Regions from separate parts of the Homo sapiens genome. Here region 1 is linked to region 2. A link means that fine-mapping ties the variant in region 2 to the expression of a gene that starts in the linked region. Tissue or cell type: spleen. Region 2 holds a variant in brackets; the other region holds the start of a gene. All regions are shown on one strand. Distances are from middle to middle.

The links. PIP is the estimated chance that this variant, and not a neighbour inherited with it, causes the effect.
Region 1: it holds the start of AHCYL2, and the variant in region 2 is fine-mapped to the expression of AHCYL2 in spleen (GTEx, PIP 0.95).

The regions. Positions count from the first base shown.
Region 1 is chr7:129,220,108-129,228,213 of GRCh38, reverse strand. It overlaps AHCYL2 (adenosylhomocysteinase like 2), which reads right to left and starts at 3,184. Exons shown (of 17, transcript NM_015328.4): 1 at 2,775-3,184. The coding sequence starts at 3,137. RefSeq lists silencers at 2,851-3,100, 3,221-3,290, 5,912-6,206 and an enhancer at 3,571-3,680.
Region 2 is chr7:129,384,207-129,392,312 of GRCh38, reverse strand. AHCYL2 (adenosylhomocysteinase like 2) reads right to left here. Exons shown (of 17, transcript NM_015328.4): 3 at 3,114-3,257; 4 at 2,579-2,679. Among named protein-coding and RNA genes, the nearest start is that of STRIP2, 46 kb to the left of the region's middle. The variant T/C (reference allele first, on the strand shown) is at 3,061.

The sequences.
Region 1 (8,106 bases), 160 kb after region 2:
CATGAAAGTTAAAAAACAAATGCAACAGTCACCAGTTCCACAGCCAAAGGCAGCTATTTCAATACTAGTATTCTCAGTTCCTTCATATGCTATAAGAAAAACAGTAAGGAGTCAAGGTCAAAGTGGTTATTTACATAGACAATCTAAGAATCAACAAAGGCTCAACAAATCAAAATGTCACACTGCAGTTCCTTGGTGAGATGACTTTCAACTTAGGGAAAGGGCAGTCTTGGGCACTTATTTTGATTTAGCCAATTCAATATCAAGAAGGTTAAAGATTGGGCACCTGAAAAGCAGCTCAGCAATGCCCTGAATTTCGTCATCCAGCTGTATCCTTGCCCAGAGCTTCACCTGCTTAACTTTCAGCAGAGAAGTTGTTTTTTTGGTGCAATTAACATTGTAAGGCAAGCTCAGCCCTGCTTTACAATAGCCTTGAGGCTGCTGAGTATATCTACAATCATGGAACATACATTTGGTGCTGAAAAAACAGGAAGATGGTTCAACGACAAGGAAAGTGGTCAAGAAGCACATCTAGAATTAAGAAAAACAGACTCCAGTATGCTGGTCTTTGATTTTTTAACTTTTTTTTTTTTTTTTTTTTTTTTGAGACAAGGTCTCACTCCAGCACCCAGGCTAGAGTGCTCATTGCAGCCTCAACTTCCTGGGCTCAGGTGATCCTCCCACCCCGGCCTCCTGAGTAGCTGGGACTATAGGCACACACCACCATGCCCGGCTCTTTTTTTTTTTTTTTTTTTTGGAGAGAGAGGTTTTCACCATGTTGCCCGGACTGTTCTCAAACTCCTGGACTCGAGCAATCCACCAGCCGTGGTTTCCCAAAGTGCTGGGATTACAGACGTGAGCCATGATTTTTTAATTTCTTTATATAGAATATATTGAACTGTGTGTAACTTTCAGAGGTGGTCATGGGGGCTTGCACTTAAGCCATGATGGGAGGAATAAAATAAAATCAATTATTCATAATAATAAAAGCATTAGTAAGAATATCATTTAAGACTTTATGTGCCAAGCTCAATGCTAAACCTTTTACAAATATTTCTAATCCTCAATCATAATTAGTACTTTCATTTTATAGAAGAGGAAACTGATTTGTGTAATTTGGAAATTACCCAAAAGGTAGTAATGGGGGTACTAGGCTTCAAATCCAGGTCTGCCTGACTGTAAACTTCATGCTCTAAAAGCAATTTGTTAAACACTTTTAGCCTAAAGAAATCTAACCAAATTACAAAGTTTAGACAAAAACAGTCTTTATCACAAGAAAATGACTTAACGATACAAAGTATCTCAACAAGTCAGAAGTATGCTTTGGATTTCCAGACTCAGATCTAGGTACTCCCAGCACTGGTGCTGCTGCTGCCTCTCTTTTTTACTTTACTTTTTTTCTTTAAACCCATTTCTGCAGGATGCTGCCTCTTTCTACTCTAATTCTTCCCAGAGGAGTTTCATACTACAAACGACAAAGACATTGTCTAAAGCATTACAGAAATTCCTTCAGTCTTGCCTCTGACTTATCACCTAAATTTGTATCGTTAGGATGAAAGGATTATCCGCTATACCTTAATCATGACGCTATGACAACAAAAAGTTATGGTGGATCCAAGGTTCCAATTCAGCTGGTCCCACACAGTAAAACCAATGCACACTTCCCGTCTCTTTGTTGCTGTTCTGATAAAGCAATTAAAAACCATTCACAACAATTTAAAAAAAACATTAATCCCTGTGCCCATACTGTGTCTACGAAATTGAAGCTGTAAGCCCTTTTTATATGATCCACACTTCTGTCTTTTCCAATACTTGCCCTGTTTTTCTGTGCTGATTCAGCTTTAAGAGAGAAAGAAAGACAAGCTTTGAGAGAGACAGACAACTATGGATAGACAATGTACGGGTAATACAGGGCTATCATCCACCTAGGCAGTTACTTCTTGGTATTCTGAGACCTCCTCAAAACTGTCTGAAAGAAGCTGACGCCTAAGACCGAAAACCCCACAAAGATCGTCTTTCCCAAAAGTAGCAGCATTTCTTCCTATCACTTTCAGATTATAATAAAGCAATCAATAAGACATTCATTCTCTTCATACACAGCCTAATAATCCTGGTGACCAACTATACCCAGCAGGGAGGACAAAGCTCTTAACACGAAAGAGTGAGGAGAATCTCTCCATTACCCTTTTACATATTCAGGGAAGAGAGAATATCGCAGTCGCTGGAAATGAAGGGCACAGCATCGTGTTGCTGTATGGCCACGGTTGGCCACAGAAAGGCAGAAAGTCATCAACTGTATGGAAACCAGACAACTCTGACGATTTCTATGCAAGGTGACTACACCTTACTCGTTCTCCAAGTATTAAAGATCTTTTCATCCTTATTGCTGTGTGAACTCCCGTGAGCGGTAAGGTTTTTCTATACTATCGAGGTCTCTTCCCCGATAGGCTGGAAAATCACACCCGGGAGCGTGTTGGGGCCGCGGGACGTACTATTAGGTGTCTCTCCTCCCGCTGCCTATTCCAAGTAGTAGGGGAGAGCGCTACCTCCATGTTATTCAGAGCGAAGTACGGCCGTGCCTCCTGGAGTCTCCGCTCCCAGCACGAGGGGCCGGCTGGGGGGCATCTCTGAGAGAGTGGGTTTAAGGGGACAAGGGGTATCTCCGGTCCTGCGATCAGAAAGGAGGGCGTGGAGGGTGGTGCCGCCGTGCCGAGAGGATCTGCAGTTCCCCTCCCCTCCCTTCCTCTCCTAGAGAGGCAGCCCGGCCCCAGTACCTTCTTGACTGTGCGCGGCGCCTCGGTGACGGTGCCGTCGGGGCTGACCAGGGCCTCGCCGCCGTCGCGGTGCCGCTGGTGCTGGTGATGTGGGTCGCTCCGCTTCATGGCCGACGCCTGAGGCACCTTCCCGGCGGCGGGGCTGAGAGCGGCGGCGGGCCCCGAGCCCGGGCCGGGGACCGGGGGCCGCTCCGCGGCGGGAGCTGGAGCCTCAGGGTCTCCACCGCCCGCCGGGGGGGCCATGGCGCCCACGGCGGCCGTGCTCAGTCCTAGTTGCGACTCCGCCTCGGAGGGGCTCAGGTCCTTCAGCTCCACCTCAGGCACCTTGGCGGCAGCCGCGGCTGACACAACCTGCACCGACATCACCGCCTCCGCTGCAACCACCGGCTCAGACTCCAGCTCCTGCTCTTGGTCGGCCCCGCCTCCCACCTCCCTTCCTCTTCCCTCCCCCATGTCCCCACTCCTCCCCTCCATCGCCTCCTCTCCCACCCCCTTTCTCCGCCCGCCAGTCCCGGCCCCTCCAGCCCCGCCCCGCCCCGTCCCGGTCTGGCCTCGCGCGAGGCGCCACGGAACCTGTAGTGCGTTTGCTCCCGGCCGCACGCGGCGAGAAGACCGTGGGACCTCAGGCCCCGACCTACACTGCGCGCCCCATGGGCGGGGCCCGCAGCGTCCCCTGGGAGTTGTAGTCCTTTCAGCCTTTCCTCCACTAAGTGAGATTCAGCCGAGGAGAGGGAGCGCTAGGGCCGGCAGCTAACAGAAAGGAGTGAGGATAGGTGACTCGACGGAGGGGATGAGGAAGAGAAAGTCTCCAGAGGAGTTGTGACTTCCGGGGAGGGAACGCCAAGAAGCCTTAGGGGAGGGGAAGTGGTAGAGGAATGGCTCGTTGTCCTGACAGCGTGAAGTTCCTCCGCGCGTGCCCGTCTGCGATCACGTGAGCGAGTATTTAAAGGAGAAGCGGCGGCTCCAGGCTGGAAGTGGCTTTATTTTTCTTTGTGATATTGAGAACTCAACACCCTTCCAAACTTCAGTGGCTTTGTTTTTAGAAGGGATAAAGTAGGACCTTGCTTGCTGTGGCGCTTTCTGTCACATTCTGGGTTTGGAAGCTAAGATCATTCCTCAAAGAAGTTAGGTATCACTAGATCAAAATTCAAGGCTGAGGAATTACACGTTGCCTTAAACGAGGCCAAATCTTTTCACCTATAATTCTAATAGGGCAATCATCTGAAATTCAGATACATATATCAGCATAGAGGGATATGAATAGTGAATATGAGTAGTTAATTTCCTAAGTGATGGGATTTAAGGTGATTTTTACTTTGTACTTTTCTGTATTATTTTTAAATTTTACATTTAGAGGATGTAAGCAAAAAGACATGCACCGCAGCGTCCTTTTTAATAACAAAAAACTGTCTAAAACTAATGTCCAACAAATAGAGCAATTGTTACAGCCTTTGAAAATCGTTTGCCAGCTGGGCATAGTGGTTGACGTCTGTAATCCCAGCACTTTGGGAGGCCAAGGCCGGCAGATCACTTGAGATCAGGACTTCAAGACCAGCCTGGCCAACATGGTGAAACCCCATCTCTACTAAAAATACAAAAATTAGCCAGGCGTGGTGGCGGGCACCTGAAATCCCAGCTACTTGGGAGGCTGAGGCAGGAGGATCGCTTGAACCTGGGAGGCAGAGGCTGCAGTGAGCCAAGATCATGCCACGGCACTCCAGCCTGGACAACGGAGTGAGATGCCGTCCCAGAAAAAAAGGAAGAAAGAAAGAAAATTGTTTGCCAATACTTTTTAACAACAAGGTTTTCCCTTTTTCATTCTTTACTCTGAAAGCCAAAATGTGAAGAGGAAGCTAAGAAACTCTTGTGTCTGGTACACTTGTGAGCTCTGTGGAAATGGCAGTGCTCAGACGCCTTCCGATACATAGTGTGAGGCACAAATTTGGCGATCAGGAAATGAGAGACTCCAAGGCAGGACAACTTCACGAAGTGAAGATTTCCAAAATCGTAATAGCACAGGAAAGAAGATCAAGGCATTCTGGCTTTCAGAATAAATGCTTATGATAAAAACATTAAGCTAAGAAGCAAGAGACAAAATTGCACATGCCATAAGATTTTATGTAAAGAATACTTTAAAAAGCCTGTAATCCCAGCACTTTGGGAGGCCGAGGCAGGCAGATCACGAGGTGAGGAGATCGAGACCATCCTGACTAACACGGTGAAACCCCGTCTCTACTAAAAATACAAAAATAAGCCGGGCGTGGTGGCGGGCGCCTGTAGTCCCAGCTACTCGGGAGGCTGAGGCAGGAGAATGGCGTGAACCCAGGAGGCAGAGCTTGCAGTGAGCAGAGATCGCCCCACTGCACTCCAGCCTGGGCGACGGAGCAAGACTCCGTCTCGTAAAAAAAAAAAAAAAAAAAAGAATACTTTAAAAAAACAAAATGCAGTTGACTCGCGACAGATTATGGGGGGGGTTCCTCTCTATGCTCAGAGAAACAGGAGCAAAGGGGTTCATACAGTTTACAGCTGTTTCAGAGACTTACAGCCCTAACAACCCAGGCAGCCACTGGACAGCTACTCTTTAGACATCTAGTCTTTGGTGTCACTGTGTTTTGCCTGGCAAGGAGAAGGAAGGAGGCCAGGCATGGTGGCTCACACCTGTAATCCCAACACTTTGGGAGGCCGAGGCGGGTGGATCACTTGAGGTCAGCAGTTCGAGACCAGCCTGGCCAACGTGGTGAAACCCCATCTCTAATAAAAATACAAAAATTAGCCAGGCGTGGTGGCTTCTGCCTGTAGTTCCAGCTACTCAGGAGGCTGAGGCAGGAGAATCCTTTGAACGCAGGAGGTGGAGGTTGCAGTGAGCCGAGATTGCACCACTACACTCCAGCCTGGGCAACAGAGCAAGACTCTGTCTCAAAAAAAAAGAAGGAGAAGGGAGAGAAATCACCTGCCTCGATCTTCTTTCCTGTCCTACTATTTTGGAAATCTGTTCACTCTGTGTGGTTGTCCTGCCTTGAATGGAGGCTCTCATTTCCTGATCTCCAAATTTGTGCCTCACAGTACATGTCGGAAGGCATCTGAGCACTGCCATTTCCACAGAGCTCACAAGACACAAGAGATTCTTAAGTTTTTTCTTCACATTCCGGCTTTCAGAATTTCCTTCCTGTTAAAAAGAAACCAGCCCAGAGCTTCATCCTCCAGCTGTCGGAGCAGAGATTAGCAGCTCTGTAACTGATTTCATTCTTCCCCCTAATGCTCAAGGGAGCTACGGTACAGCCACCTGGCATGTGTTGGAGCTCATAGGCAGCAGCTGCCTACCTGCCACTAGAATTGATTACTGAGAGGATGAATTAATTCTTCAGTGTGATGTGGTTATAAAATATAAGGAGTTAGAGCACTGGAATGAAACTGATACCCTGTTTTATTCCAGTCACCACCACTGATTGGGGCCAACCATCAGGACACATTCTTCAACCTGTTGTCAACTCCATCCCTACATACCTGCTGCTTCTGCCATCCTTGTAGCTGAGGGACACCAGGTACAGTTGAAGATCAAATTACATACTAGAAACAGGGTAATTAAGCACCAGTTTATGAACTATTTAATGAAATATTTGGACTACAGGTCTTCTTCCTTCACCCGGCTCATTCAGCTTCCAGAACGCTGGCAAGCAGGAATGTAACGTCCATGCAGGACATTGGTATAAAAAAGAATTTCTTTTTTTCTTTTTCTTTTTTTTTTTTTGAGATGGAGTCTCGTGCCATCGCCCAGACTAGAGTGCAGTGGCATGATCTCGGCTCACTGCAACCTCTGCCTCCTGGGTTCAAGCAATTCTCCTGCCTCAGCCTCCCGAGTAGCTGGGACTACAGGCACGTGTCACCACACCCGGATAATTTTTTGTATTTTTAGTAGAGACGGGGTTTCACCATGTTAGCCAGGATGGTCTCAATCTCCTGACCTCGTGATCTGCCCGCCTTGGCCTCCCAAACTGCTGGGATTACAAGCCTGAGCCACCGCGCCCGGCCAATAAAGAAGAATTTCTTGGCCAGGCACGGTGGCTCACACCTGAAATCCCAGCACTTGGGAGGCCAAGGCGGGCAAATCACGAGGTCAGGAGTTTGAGACCAGCCTGACTAACATGGTGAAATCCCGTCTCTACTAAAATACACAAATTAGCTGGGTGTGGTGGCACACGCCTGTAGTCCCAGCAACTCGGGAGGCTGAGGCAGGAGAATTGCTTGAACTTGGGAGGCAGAGACTGCAGTGAGCTGAGATTGCGCCACGGCACTCCAGCCTGGGCAACAGAGCAAGACTGTGTCTCAAAAAAAAAAAAAAAAAAAAAGAAGAATTTCTCTGAGGTATCTGACCAATCCAAGAGAGAAAACAAAGATACTAACATTGAGAGTTTCCAAAGGAAATAAGCCAGCCAGATCACCCGCCCTGAAGACCATACTCATGTTCACAGAGCTTCCGTGAACAATTTAGTGTCACATTCTTAAGTATGAACAGACAACCAAAGTCACCAGACATATGAAGAAAACTTTGGTTTTTTGTTTCGAGACAGAGTCTCACTCTTGCTGCCCAGGCCAGAGTGCAGTGGCATAATCATAGCTAACTGCAACCTCTGCCTCCTGGGCTCAAGCAATCCTCCCACCTCAGCCTCCCAAGTAACTGGAACTACAGGTTTGCACCACTACACCTGGCTAATTAAAAAAAAATGTTTTTGGTAGAGTAGGGCTCTTGCTATGTTGCCCAGGCTGGTCTCGAACTTCTAGTTGTTTTTTTTTTTTTGGAGACGGAGTCTCGCTCTTGTTGCCTAGGCTGGCGTGCAGTGGCGCAATCTCGGCTCACTGCAACCTCCGCCTCCCAGGTTCAAGCAATTCTCCTGCCTCAGCCTCCCGAGTAGCTGGGACTAAAGGCACCCACCACCATGCCGAGCTAATTTTTCATATTTTAGTAGAGACGGGGTTTTACCATGTTACCCAGGCTGGTCTCAAACTTCTGAGCTCAGGCCATCTGCCTGCCTTGGCCTCCCAAAGTGCTAGAGTTACAGGCATGAGCCACCGTGCCCAGCCTGTTTTTTTGTGGTTTTTTGTTTTTTGTTTTTTTTTAGATGGAGTCTCACACAGTTGCCCAGGCTGGAGTGCAATGGCAGGATCTCGGCTCACTGCAACCTCCGCCTCCCAGGCTCAAGCGATTCTCCTCCCTCAGCCTCCCGAGTAGCTGGGATTACAGGCACGCATTACCACATCCAGCTGATTTTTTTTTTATTTTGAGTAGAGATGGGGTTTCACCATGCTAACCAGGCTGGTCTTGAACTCCTGAGCT
Region 2 (8,106 bases):
AAATATCTATTGTTTATTAATTACCCAGTCTAAGGTATTTTGTTATAGCAGCCCAAATGAACTAAGACAAGAGTGAAAGAGTATTAGGTTGGCAAACAAAGCATAATTTCTTTGTCGTTATTTTTTTAAAGGAAAAAAATGTGGGGTGGAAACAATAAATTAATATTAAAATTGGTAAGCTAATTGTGATCAATCCATTCAGGAAAAAAATAGAAAGGGAACCATGAAAGGTGGTAATGCTCACTGAGCCTAAGGGTAAAAAACAAACTAGATGTAATTCAGCAACATGAGACAGTAGAGAAGCACTTACTATTTTAAGCTACCACACTGAAGTCTCATGTCGCTGACTGAGCAGGCCAAAAAAGATTCAAGAGTGTTTCTGTCTTGATTCATTAGTTTGTAGCTCCAAAACAGATAGCTTTTCAATTTATTATATTAATTTTGAGCAGTCAGGGTACTCTTGTCCTCAGAGAACACATAACCCAGAAAAGTTTCATAGTGAAGATGCTAATAGAAGCTGTCTGTACCTTGAGGAATCTCTAATGTTCTTAATCAGGAATGTGACCACATAAGTGTTGTGCTTTGGGAGAGACAATCTTTGGAAAGCTGATCTAGCCACACAGATGACCCAGATCTTATGAATCCCCATAAAAGATTCCAGACCACTGCTCAATATAACAATTTCCCGATAGTGGTCTCATTATGGTTAGCAACTCCATATATATTGCATCTCTGGTGATAAAAGAGGAGATCTAGAAAATTGTGGGGGCATTTTTGGTTGCCACAATAATTGGAAGGGGAGTGCTATTGGCATTTAGTGGGCAGGACCAGGAATCTGGACATTTTGAAAGTGTCTCAACAAAAAACTGTGTTGCAGCTGGTACAATTTTCAAATGTCCCAATAAAAGTTCCCATGGGTGAAAAACCTATCTACAATTATCTGAGTTTAGAACCTAATTCCACTTTACAAATTAGCAAAAAGTAGTTTTGTAGTTTTAATACAAAACAATAGTTTTTCCAGGAATGTAACAGCTATGTAAATGAAGAGAAAACTCATACTTTTTGTTGTTCTTATTGTTTAGAAGATTACAAAAAGTTGTTTACTATTTCAGAAAATCATGGCAATGCTGCTCTGATGCTCTGGAATCAATAACACATTTATTTCTGTCTTCAAATAATACTATTTCAAATAATACTGTGAAATAGTACAAATATCTGATTGTTCTACTATAGTTGTCCTCAAGTATTTACATATTGAAATACACATTATTTTAAGTATTGTACTTTTTTTATTCCTCCTTCATATTTCAGTTAAGATTTTATATTGATTTATTTTTAAAGATTATATGTACCTGGACATGTTATATCTGAATTTCATTTCAGGATAGTTCAGGGACACTGCAAAAAAAAAGTTTTTTAATAAAAAGGGGACATTAAAACTGATGAGAGTAAGGTAGGAATCACTGGTGTAAGCAAATCATGGTAATTCCACGCCCCTCGGTAGGACTGGTGGAGCACAGATACATGATCCAGTTCTGCCCAATGAGACACGATGGAGTATCCTGGAGGGACTTCTCTTGAGTGAGGAAGAAATGGTCCCTCTTCCTTTTCATGTCAGTTTGTGATGACTAGAATAGTTGTAAGCATCTTGCTATCAGCTTTAGGGTGAAGTAAGCATACTGAGGAGGCAGCTCCAAGAGAATCAGAGAGGTGAAGCTGGAGCCCTGAGATCCTGCATCTGAAGTCTGCCTTCCCTTTGGACTTTCTGCTATGTACTGTGATAAATTCCTTTATGTGACATAACTTTTATTACAGTCTGTTGTTGTAATTGCTCTCTTTTATTTTGAGTTACTGTTGTTCATTTCTTACTGTGCTGAATTTATAGCTGTCTCTCAGTATCCTCAGGGGATTTATTCCAGCACTCCCATGGATACCAAAATCTGAGGATGCTCATGTCCCTTATATAAAATGATGCAGTGTTTGCATATAATCTGTGCACATCCTTCTGTATATTTTAAAGCATCTCTAGGTTATTTATAGTACCCAATACAGTGTAAATGCTATGTAAATAGTTGTTATATTTCTTGTTATTTTGTATTGTTGTATTATTTTATTTTCTGAATATTTTTGATCTGCAGTTGGTCAAATCCTCAGGAAGCAGAACTGGTGGACATGCAGGGCCAATTGCATAAATTAAACTTGATTATAGGTATATATGTATAGGAAAAAACATAGTATATATAGGGTTCAGTACTGTCTGAAGTTTCAGGTGTCCACTAGGGGTCTTGAAACTTATCCCCCACAGACAAGGCAGGGGGACTACTGTATATTGAAGTTAAAATCTTGACTCTGTGATTTCTAGCTGTATAACCTTAAACAAATATCTTAAGCCCTCTGAGCCTCAGCTTCTTCGTTTATAAAATGGAAACAAGAATACCTGCTTTATATGGCCATTATAAGGATTAATAAGCTAATACTTGTTAAGCTCTTAACTCGGTGCTTGGCATGTTGTAAGCTTTCAGTAGCTCGTGGCTATTATTAACTATTGTAATTAAAAGGAGAAAAGAAAAGAACTCACAGCAGTCTGAGCAGTGATGTGTGTGCAACCCACGATTTTGGCTCCAGCCAAAGGCTTTTCTCCTTGAGCTCTCTTCCTCAAAGCCATCAATGCAGGCATTTCTGAAAAGGCCCAATAAATACAGCAATATTAAAGAAGAAGGAATAAGAGATAAAAGAACAAACAGAAAAACTTGTTTTCTTAAGTTAAGATCCTTCCCCTGATCAGGTTAGATTAGGTTTCTCCAGGGATCAAGACATTAAACCTGTATTTTCCTTTATAAAGGGCTTTTGGAGGCAAATGCTCCAGGGTTCTGATTCTCTATATTCCAGTCCTTATCCAGTCTCTCTCCCTTTTTTTTTTTTTTTTTTAATACAGGGTTCCTTCTAGACTTGCCAGATTTCCCCAGTGTTTCTTGAACTCACATTTCTTTTGTTATAAGTATTCTTATCACATAGAAATTTCACAAGCTACCAGACCCCAGACATAAAAAGGGATTAATA[T/C]GGACAAAAAGACACAGGTAGGTTAAGAAGGAAAAGGTGCTTGTTTTCTTTACCTTGTTCAGCAATTTCAATTTCTCTTCGTCCAAACTCTGCCTGTTTGATGTTCTTAACACAGAAGTCACTGCTTCCCTTAGAGTTCTTTTGCTGCTTGTCCCTGGGCGATGTCTCATCATCAGAGCTATCTGTATATGAAGCCGCTGGAATGACAGAATAAAAAACACTCGGAAAAAAAAAAATGCTTCCTCTAAAATTCCAAACCATGGAGCAAACTGAAGCTTCTCTAGCCACCTAGCACCATATAAATTTTTTTACCTCTGTTAAGTACCTGCAGGCTATACACATGCCAGAAGAGGGAAGCTGAAAGAGATTGCCAAAGACATTCTTCCTGGATAGCCTTAACTTGAAATGTAGGGCTAACTTTATCTTCAGAACACGCAGAGGTCCTTGAATACGCAAAAAGAAAAGGTTACACCATGGTAGCATTAGGTTAAAGTTCCTAATGCAAGATCGTGGTCATTAACATATGGGTTTTTGGGATTCTAACTACTCTGCTCTGTGTGCTGCTTAAATGTTTGATATAATTTGTGTTTTAGTACAATTACTGAACAGATAAGACCTAGAAAACAAGGAATCCATGGGAAAGTAATTAAGAACCACACAAAAAGTATTTGTCTGACCTAACAGAGCTTTCTTTTTTAAGACGGACTCTGATGAGGCTGAATTGTGCCTGCAGACCCAATTAGACATTGACAATGAAGTATTCAATGTGCTCTCCCTTCTTGCTGGCCTCAGTAGGTCTGGCGTTAGGCATTTTAGACTCCCAAAGAAGTGAATAAATCCTCCTTTGGTACAATAAAATGCTCTGATAACTAATCCATTTAGCAACATATACTAGAGTGTGAAAGGCCTAAAACTTTTTATCGTGGTTAACAGGCAGCTGCTGCTACTACTATTCACATGCTTAGCTGGGGTCTTTTTAGTCTTCATAGGATTCTGTAGTTACTAACCATTTGCTAGATTATTTGAAGCAGTGTCCTTCCCTGATTTGTGTTTGAGCTTCTGAAGATAGTTCTTAACCCCCAAGTTTTTTGGGGGGTTAAGAAACACTCTCTAGAAAACGCTTTGTATCTCTCAATGGAATAAGTACTGCCATCACTTTTAAGGGTAGAAAACTGTGAAAGCTCAGAGTGCCTACGGTCTACGATGCTCTGATCTACTTATATGCAGAGAATTAAGGCATTTCTGAGATTTCTTAGCAAAGGGTCTACCTCTGCGAGGGCTGTAAAAGGCAAGTCTGACCTTGCCCAGTTAATCAGGCATGGCACTACAAACCATTTGGGCAGCAGGGGCTTCAGAATCTCTTTTGGAGCTGGAGCAAAGTCCTAACACGAGGCAACAGGAATGAACATGGGCACCAGGGGAGGTGAGGGAATTAGTAAATCCCCAAAGAGACTTTTGTTCTTGAAAGGAGCTAATCTGTACAAAAAGTTTGTGGTTCCCTCTCCTAGGGTGAGTGAAAGCTCAAAGTACTTTTGGCAACAGAACCCAGACACAGCTTTCTGGGAAGTCATCTGTTTTACTAATCAATATTCAGAAATACCTAATAAATCAGAGGCTTAGGGGAACCATGCTTCTACCACCTGAGAGATAAAAAGATAACAGCCATCTCTAATCCCGATCCAGATTTATGGAAAATTACTTTTGAAGAAAGTGTTCATATTCAGAATATCCTGAAATCTCAAATTCTTTTTCAGAGTCATGATGATTTTTATGCTTCCCAATGGCCATTTAAATATAGCGGTCATGTGTTCTGGAGTCAGTCTTTGGTTTAAGTCTCAGTCTCTGTTTTTGGGTGTATAAAGTGGAGCTGATCCGTTTGAAAGAGTTGTTAATTTATTCACGTATTCAGTCATTCACACACTCAGGTGTTTATTCAAATTTTAGTTATGCATCTATTATGTACTAGGCATAGCCTAGGTGCTGGAAATACAGGACAGATATAGATGGTCCTTATCTTCATGGAGTTTTCAGTCTAGTCAGTGAGTCAAAAAAGAAATAACTAGTTACAAAATTAATTATTTAGAGCTTTAAAAAATACATCTGTAATGTGTGCTATAAAGCAGAAATCAGGATGTCATAAGACTATATAATAGGAGAACATGACTTGTCAGAGTCAAGTTGTTAAGCAGATTAAGTAAGATAATGTATGTAAAGTGTTTACTGCAATGCTTGGCATACAGTAATTAAGCACTCAATAAATGATACCTGATATTACCCACTTTAGCACATATTTTAAATTCAGTTCCAGATATAACATCTTTAAGGGTTCTTACTCAGCTTTAAGATTTTGAATGGGAAAAGAATGATATACATACATAATCATTTAGCAGTTTATCTTTTTTTATACCTCCATCATCTCCTACTAATCTACCCAAACAGCAGGTGGTTGGCTGGCAGTGATTTGAGAGGTTGAGACTGGAGTCCTAACTCTACCCAGAAGAGATTGCCCTTCCTATGCCTCTTTAGTTTCTAAGAATGAGTCAGAAGAAAACCAAAAAGCAAAACAAAATTTGAAAATTTCCCCTTAAGAGAAGCATTCCAATTTCTGGCTTTACCATTTCCCCACACCAACTCAAAGAAAAAAATCTTTACACCACTTCTCTATTCTAAAACCTGGAAAAAACAGTGTTTTACTTTCTTAACAGGAGTCAAGTAGTTACAGTTAATTCAACCAATGTTTTTCTTTGAGCCAAAATGTATTTGTTTTCAAAGATCCCTTTTTTTTTTTTTGAGCCAGGGTCTTACTCTGTCACCTAGGCTGGAGCACAGTAGCACGATCTCAGCTCACTGCAACCTCCGCCTCCTGGGTTCAAGCAATTATCCTGCCTCAGCCTCCTTAGTAGCTGGGATTACAGGAGCCCACCACGGTGCCTGGCTAATTTTTGCCTTTTTAGTAGAGACGGGGTTTCGCCATGCTGGGCAGGCTGGTCTTGAACTCCTGACCTCAGGTGATCCGCCCACCTTGACCTCCCAAAGTGCTGGGATTACAGGCTTGAGCCACCATGCCCGGCCTCAAAGAGCCCTTTATACGGACCTGCTATCAGGTAAGAACCAAAAATATCAGTTGTCTAGATTGTACTACTATGTGGATACGACATGGCTGACAGATCCAGACCAAGAGAATATATTATTAGTTCTGCAAACACAGTGGAAAGGTTATTGCTGAATTATAAATGAATGAATTATAAATAAATGAATAAATAAATTTACTCATTTATTCTTTGAATCCGTACTCATTTCTGCCACAGAGTAACAAACTCATGATGACAGTTGAGATAGTATTAAGGACTGTTCCTAGGAAAATTTAGAGAAACCCAACACGTATGTACAAACACACTTGAACAGAGTTTCTAAAATATTTGTAATTGTCAGCATACTCTAAAGCCCAGAGTCATAATTTAAATAAACAAGAACAACCAATAACCTACTAAAGTAGTCCTGAGATCCTAGATCTAGCTTCAACCCTAAGTGGTTAAGTGACCAATTTTCAATTTATCCAACTGTAAACTGTAACAGATTCCCTCTTTCCTCATGCTCTCTCTTTCCCCCAACTACCACCGGAAAAATCTTACGAATAAATGAGATGATAACCAAAAGGGTTCAGTTTCTACGTAGAAAAGTAGTATGAAGTACAATATAACTTTACTATGGGATGTTATCTTGTTTCATTATTTTCCAAAATCAAAAGACAGCATGATGAATCAAGAATCCACAATCTATCTCACAGAACATGTATACACATTTTATGATTCAAGCCTGATTAAGCTTTACCTCTCAGCAGCTGTGATACTGTGAGTTACTGCTAGGAGAAGCAGCAGTCAGAACCCTGACTGAATTAGTCCTATTAGACTATTTTATGTCAGGCAATTCCTCTTGGGCCTAACCTATTCATTTGGTAATGGAAATAACAGTAGGGACCTGTGTGTCGGGTTATAGCAGACTTCACTGATGAGTAACACTCTGGAAATGTGTAAAAAGCTATGCTAGCATCCCAAATACAAACACAAAATTTTGTTGTTTGGAAAAATCTGAAAATATCTCAAACTTTATAAGAATTGTAGAGTTTGGGAACAAAAAGAACCAATCGTGAAGAAGGGACTTCTGTCTTCTTTCCTCATCCTTAACCAAGTAACTCATTGCAAAGACAGCTTATTCAGAAATATATCACTGAGAACGGTCTGATTAAAAAAGAAGTCTCTTCTGTTCATTTGTTTTTATGAGGTTTTTTTCCTTAGGGGAAGAGTTTTTTAGAAGTTTGCTTCTTATAAAATAGTTTCGTGGATTAATGCAGCGTTTTTCAACCTGGGTTCTGCTAGAAATTAAGTCCTAATGCCTTGAAGCATCCATTGTACATAATGAATTAACTTCTCTCCTACGCATCTGGAAAGTACTAGTTATGTATCATCTTTTGGAAAATTAAGAAAAGTCTATAAAATCATTTTCTGTGTTCTGTGATTCAGATGAGGATCCCTGGTTGAGAAAAGCTGGCAGAGGTTCCTAAATGAAAGCATGGCAAAACTTAGTACTAGGAGCCTTAGGAAGGGAGACGAGGCTAGAGCCTATGTAAGCCTCTGAGTATCTTCAGCAAAACAAGCACTTTGGACAGGAAAGTATCTTTTTTTGAAATCTCATAAACCTGCTTTTGTTGTTCATACACACTGAGTATATTAGGGACCTCAACAAGGGTATAAAAGTATAACGTCTCTGAACACCTTTCACCAATATTTATTTATTGAGTACCTCTTCTGTGTCAAACACAGTTCTAAGTGCTGGGAATAGAGCAATGTAAAACAGAAAAAAAAAAAATCTCTGTTCTCATGGATCCTGCATTTAAATAGAAAGGAAAAGACCAAAACATATTAGCAACATATTAGCAACATAATATATATGATATATATTATCATATATATGATATATTAGCAAAACATATTAGCAACATAATATATATGATATATATTATCATATATATGTTATATGATAAGTGCT